Linked DNA regions of Homo sapiens. The protein of the gene in region 1 interacts with the protein of each later gene in a pairwise test. Each region holds a gene or a part of one and is shown in the gene's direction. Other genes may lie near its edges.

What was found. The genes of interacting proteins can lie anywhere in the genome.
Region 2: the proteins of TRIM46 (region 1) and RNF125 interact in a two-hybrid assay, tested with the Homo sapiens proteins (one large-scale study listed by BioGRID and IntAct).

Annotation. Positions count from the first base shown.
Region 1 is NC_000001.11:155,180,339-155,183,992, forward strand, and holds part of TRIM46 (tripartite motif-containing protein 46), read left to right. Parts: intron 1-96; coding exon of another isoform or gene 97-164; exon of another isoform or gene 165-341; intron 342-1,513; coding exon 1,514-1,811; intron 1,812-3,458; coding exon 3,459-3,654.
Region 2 is NC_000018.10:32,070,768-32,073,816, forward strand, and holds the end of RNF125 (E3 ubiquitin-protein ligase RNF125), read left to right. Parts: 3' UTR 1-2,452; downstream 2,453-3,049. UniProt on the Homo sapiens protein: E3 ubiquitin-protein ligase that mediates ubiquitination and subsequent proteasomal degradation of target proteins, such as RIGI, MAVS/IPS1, IFIH1/MDA5, JAK1 and p53/TP53.

The DNA of each region.
Region 1 (3,654 bases):
GTAATCCCAGCACTTTGGGAGGCCGAGGCGGGCGGATCACAAGGTCAAGAGTTTGAGACCAGCCTGGCCAACATGGTGAAACCCCGTCTCTACTAGGAATACAAAACTTAGCCAGGCGTGGTGGTGCGTGCCTACAATTCCAGCTACTCGGGAGGCTGAGGTAGGAGAATCGCTTGAACCTGGGAGGCGGAGGTTGCAGTGAGCTGAGATCGCGCCACTGGACTCCAGCCTGGACAACAGAGCAAGACTCCGACGTCTCGGAAAAATAAATAAATAAATAAATAAATAAAGGCCAGGCAAGGTGGCTCACACCTGTAATCCCAGCACTTTGGGAGGCCAAGGTGGGTGGATCCCCTGAGGTTGGGAGTTTGAGACCAGCCTGACCAACATGGAGAAACCCCATCTCTACTAAAAATACAACATTAGCTGGGTGTGGTGGCGCATGCCTGTAATCCCAGCTACTTGGGAGGCTGAGGCAGGAGAATTGCTTGAACCCAGGAGGCGGAGGTTGCGGTGAGCCGAGATCGCGCCATTGCACTTCAGCCTGAGCAACAAGAGTGAAACTCTGTCTCAATAAATAAGTAAATAAAATACGTAAAAAATAAATTATTTTTGGCTGGGCACAGTGGCTCACGCCTGTAATCCCAGCACTTTGGGAGGCCGAGGTGGATGGATCACGAGGTCAGGCGTTCAAGACCAGCCTGGCCAACATAGTGAAACCCCGTCTCTACTAAAAATGAAAATGAAAATAATTAGCTGGGTGTGGTTGCAGGCGCCTGTAATCCCAGCTACTTGGAAGGCTGAGGCAGGAGAATGGCTTGAACCTGGGAGGCAGGGGTTGCAGTGAGCCAAGATTGCGCCACTGCACTCCAGCCTGGGGAACAGTGTGAGACTCCGTCTCAAAAACATATATATATTTTTAAAAAATGATAATGCTTACCTCATAGAGTTGCAAGAATTCAACTGGTTTGAGACGATCAATGGGAGTCTGAGTACAGTGTCCGGCTCATGGTTAGGGCTCAAGAATGTTACTAAAGTGACTAGAAAATAGTTCGGACTCCAGGGGGTGGGCATAAGAGGGAAGCCTTGCCACCCAAATAGGGGCTGGGTATAAGGGCCAGGTGTGAACCCAGAGTATGGGCTGGAAGGCACAGATTGATGGTGATGGGAATGTCACCAGGTGGAACAGAATAGTGGGAACTGTCCATGGGGCTGGCCACAAGTAAGGGGTTCGAGGGAGCCCCATGAGTCAGCCAGGTCCGGAGCACTGACTTCTGTGCCCACTGCCATCACAAAAACTCTCTGGGGTCCCACGCCCATTTGGAATGCCCCCTTCTTTTTTCCTCATGCCCCCCATTCCAGTTTCCCATGTCCTGTTCTCCTGAACCCCCTGCCTGTTCCTGGTGACTGAACCCCCTTGCAACGCGTTCCCTGTTCTGCAGTCTCACAGCCCCCAGTGCCAGTGTTTGTCCCTGAAGTTCTTGCTCCATCTCAACCCTCTCCCTCCTTCCAGTCCTGCACTTCTTCCTCGATAGCCGCTGGGGCGCAAGCCGAGAGCGGCTGGCTATCAGCAAGGACCAGCGAGCAGTACGGAGTGTTCCAGGGCTGCCCCTGCTGCTGGCTGCTGACCGGCTGCTGACCGGCTGCCACCTGAGTGTGGATGTGGTCCTGGGCGACGTGGCTGTGACCCAGGGCCGCAGCTACTGGGCCTGCGCCGTAGACCCAGCCTCCTACTTGGTCAAGGTGGGCGTCGGGCTGGAGAGCAAGCTTCAAGAAAGTTTCCAGGGTGCCCCCGATGTGATCAGCCCCAGGTCAGACCCCTCTGGAAGGGATGGGGTGTGGGGGTCCTGGTGGGAGTGAGGGGCACAGAAGGGGTGGCAAGTGGAGCACAGACTTGCTAGGGTGGGGCTGGGAGGGGATTAGGAGGAAGTAGTAGGAGCCTGGAAGCCAGGCTGGGAGGCCTGTGTCCAGGAGACGCATGGGCTCAGCAAAAGGGCTTTTGAGGACTGATTTTCAGAGCATGTCGTGTGGTCAGGGAAAGGGATGATAGAAGAGGGAGCCATCTCTGCTTCCTTCCAACCATCTGTCACTCTGGATCAACACACCATCTCTCCAAGCATCTGTGTCCTTTCTTCCTAACACTCCATTTCCAACATACCTTCTCCATAAAACCTTTGCTCTCCAAGACCTCCTTCACCCGTATCTTAAAATTCTTCCCTTAGCCGGATGCGGTGGCTCACGCCTGTAATCCCAGCACTTTGGGAGGCTGAGGCAGGCAAATCACTGGAGGTCGAGAGTTCGAGACCAGCTTGACCAACATGGAGTGACCCCATCTCTACTAAAAATACAAAAAAAATAGCTGGGCGTGGTAGCGCATGCCTGTAACCCCGGCTACTCGTGAGGCTGAGGCAGGAGAATCACTTGAACCCGGGAGGTGGAGGTTGCGGTGAGCCAAGATTGTGTCATTGCACTGCAGCCTGGGCGACAAAAGCAAAACTCCTTCTCAAAAAAAAAAAAAAAAAAATTCTTCCCTTAAACATCCCACCTCCATAACCCTCCTCTCCCCAACTCCCTGTTTTTTTTTTTTTTTGAAATGGAGTCTCGCTCTGTCGCTCAGGCTGGAGTCTAGCGGCGCGATCTCCGCTCACTGCAAGCTCCACCTCCCGGGTTCACACCATTCTCCTGCCTCAGCCTCCCGAGTAGCTGGGACTACAGGCACCCGCCACCATGCCCAGCTAATTTTTTGTATTTTTAGTAGAGACGGGCTTTCACCGTGTTAGCCAGGATGGTCTCAATCTCCTGACCTCGTGATCCGCCCACCTTGGCCTCCCAAAGTGCTGGGATTACAGGCGTGAGCCACTGTGCCTGGCCCCAACTCCCTATTTAACACCCTCCCACTAATGCTTTGCATCCTAAGCCTTCTCCCCAGCACTCTATCCCCCAACACCTTATTTCTTCAAAATGCTTTCTCCCCAACACAAACCCCTCCTAAACCCCATTGTCCCCAACCCCGCATACCTCTAACACCCTTCATTTGTGACACCAATCCACCCTCATCTCTCTCCCGACACCCACCTTCCCAACATCCTTTCTCTTCTTAGTCACTAATCTCGGATTCTTCCAATGTCCTCTAATCCTCAGAACCATCTCCCCAGCATGATTTCCCCAAGACCATTTTTCTCAATGCCTTTCCGCGGGCTATACCAATGCCATGTCTTTCCTGTCCGCCTGCCCCTCTCTTGCCAATGTGCTTTCCTCTCAGTGCTCTCTTTCCACCAAACCCAAACCCCTGACCCTATACTCTAACCCCTGCCTCTTCAGCGTTTTCTTCTCAACACCCAAAATCCATCCCTTCAACCTCTTGCTCCTTAACATTCCATCCTTCCAGCGTCTCCCTCTGGTACCTCATCCGTCACTCCATCCCTCAACAATCTCGTCCCCAACACCCGCTTCTGCAGGTACGACCCGGACAGCGGGCACGACAGCGGTGCCGAGGATGCCACAGTGGAGGCGTCGCCACCCTTCGCTTTCCTAACCATTGGCATGGGCAAGATCCTGCTGGGGTCGGGGGCAAGCTCAAACGCAGGGCTGACAGGGAGGGATGGCCCCACAGCCGGCTGCACAGTGCCCCTGCCACCCCGCCTGGGCATCTGC
Region 2 (3,049 bases), on another chromosome or scaffold:
GATCTCGGCTCACTGCAACCTCTGCCTCCTGGATTCAAGCAATTCTCCTGCCTCAGCTTCCCGAGTAGCTGGGATTATAGGCATGCGCCACCACGCCCTGCTAATTTTGTATTTTTAGTAGAGTCAGGATTTCTCCACATTGGTCAGGCTGGCCTCAAACTCTCGACCTCAGGTGATCCGCCTGCCTCGGCCTCCCAAAGTGCTGGGATTACAGGTGTGAGCCACTGCGCCCGACATCCCAATTTTTAAAATAGTTATACTATGTCAACATTTTCAGAACATACTGGTATAGCATACTGTACTTTCTTCCTTTTATCCCCCATTTATTCTTAGTTCTTCAACTATATATTTAACACTTGCCCCCAGTTTTGTTTTGTTTTGTTTTGAGGAGGAATCTTGCTCTGTTGCCCAGGCTGGAGTGCAGTGGTGTGATCTTGGCTCACTGCAACCTCCGCCTCCCGGGTTCAAGTGATTCTCCTGCCTCAGCCTCTCGAGTAGCTGGGATTACAAGTGGGCACCACCACACCCGGCTAATTGTTGTATTTTTAGTAGAGATGGGTTTTGCCATGTTGGCCAGGCTGGTTTTGAACTCCTGACCTCAAGTGATCCACCTGTGTTGGCCTCCTAAAGTACTGGGATTACAGGTGTGTGCCACCGCGCCAGGCAATTGCCCCCAGTTTTTATTTGATGGCTCTGACTGTTTCTCATATCTGACTCTTTAATTATGAATCCAGGGCATAGATTAGTATCTCCATCTTGTAAGGATGCAAAGAAGCCATGAAAATAAGTAATATCAACTCCTGAGGATAAAACGTTACTTGACTAGAGTTAGCTTTTTAATTGTAATCATTTATAAACTTCTTTGTTCCTTACATATAAGCATAGTCATAACCATGGTACCCAAAATTTTCTATAAGTTATTGTAACTCCTTAAAGGTCTTGCTACAGTTCTTTTATCCAGTACAAATAATTGGGAAAATGTAAAGCTGAATGAAATCTAGTGAGCCTCATATCCTCCCTTTTAGATATTGATTTTAAGTTTGCTTTTCACAGCTGCTAAAAAGTAACAACTGATTTTTAGTTCCACAACCTCTCTTTCTTCAATTTAGATGGATCATACAATAAAGCAAAATCTGGCTGGTTACAGTGGCTCACACCTATAATCCCAGCACTTTGGGAGGCTGAGGTGGAGGGTCTCATGAGCCCAGGAGTTCAAGACCAACCTGGGCAATATAGTGAGACTCTTTCTATTTAAACAAAAACAAAAACAAACAAACAAACAAACAAAAAGCTGGGCATGATGCACACCTTTAGTTTCAGCTACTAAGGAGGCTGAGGTTGGAGGATCACTTGAGCCTAGGAGGTCAACACTGCAGTGAGCTATGATCATGCTACTGCCCTCCAGCCTGGGCAACAGAGCAAGACCCTGTCTCCAAAAACATAAATAATTAAATATAAATAAAAATAAAGCAAAATCTGTTGGGAAACGAGAAAAAGGAGAGGAATTTTTCAGGAATAATCATAAAAAGAAATGATCATCAGACTGAAAGTCCAGAGCCTGAGAAATGAAAACATATTTTTAAGCATTGGTGTTGACCATGCAGACAAACTTTTGTTAATTCAGAGCGATACAAAAGGCACTTTGAATCTATAAAACTTGAAAAAGTTAAAAATTGTATGTCGGATAAAGCTTTAAGTCATCTGTCACTATTAACCTCAGTGCAGCAATTCTGACTCCTGTGCCTGGATTCCTTTTATGATAATTTTGCCACCTACAGGACAGATTAGGTGCTGGTCGCCTGAATTATTTTGTGTTCTGAATTATTTTGAGCTCTAAAATGGTAAAGTACAAATACTCATTGTTTTACTGTGCCTTTGGCCTTTTATAAAAAGGTATTTATAATTCGTTGATAAAAACCAATATTTGAAGCTGTTGATTACCAACAAAAAAGTTTCACTCTCTTTATAGTGCTTCAGGATACAACTTTTTCAGGGCCTTATTAGAGAAAAACTGATTCACATGTTATTCTTCTAAAGCTAAATTATTAAAATGTAGGTTGAAAGATTGGATTGATTGTGAATCTACACTAAAGATATGGTTCCAGGCAGACCTCCTTAGAGACCTCCAGGCAGACCTCCTTACTGTCTTCAGTGATGTTTAATTTCATTACTGTTACTGGGTGCCAAGTGTCTTTCATTTGGAAGTGAACTTACTCCAGTTATTGAATGTTTATCATATCATAATTTGCATTTTTCCAACATTGAAGGTATTTTAAAAAGTCACTAAGAGATTCATTCTTTTATTATTCAACTACAAAAAAATAGTGTAATGATCAGAATTTAAAATGTGTGATTCTTTTTCTTCTGTAAGTATGTATTGCTATGATAAATAAAAAATGGCAGGACCATTGTTTTTATTAAAATATCTACTGTGTCTATTCTTAAACATTAATCTTGATTACTATTTTACTCAAATTTAATAATGCTTTTTAAATTTTCATCATTGAGCAACATCTATCACAAAGGTGTACATTCATTTAGGCCAGTACTTCTCAACTGGGGGTAATTTTGTCTCCCAGCAGACATTGGCAATGTCTAGATACATTTTGGGTTGTCCTAACAGGGCTTGGGTGTGCTAGTGGCCTGAGATCTAGATACAGGTCAGGGATGCTGTTCAGCATTCTACAGTGCACAAGACAGCCCCTTGCAACAAAGAATTATCCTGCGCAAAATGGCAATAGTGCCTAGGCTTAGAAACTCTGATTTGGTCAACATAATACTGAGCACTATGGATTTATTATTTGTTCTGCTAGCAAGAGGCTTCACTGAAATTTAAAAGGTAAGATGTAGATAGATTCTTCCCCCTGCTAAATCCATACTAAGTTTTGAATGGCTGTAGCTGTCATGCGTACCCATATGTCATGAGCATATTAATTTTTTGATTTTTTGCAAGAACACATACAGGACAGAACACAAGTGTTACTGACGAAACCTCTGATGCCTGTTTGCTGAGTGACGTTCTAGATGATTGAGGGAACCCAGATCAGTT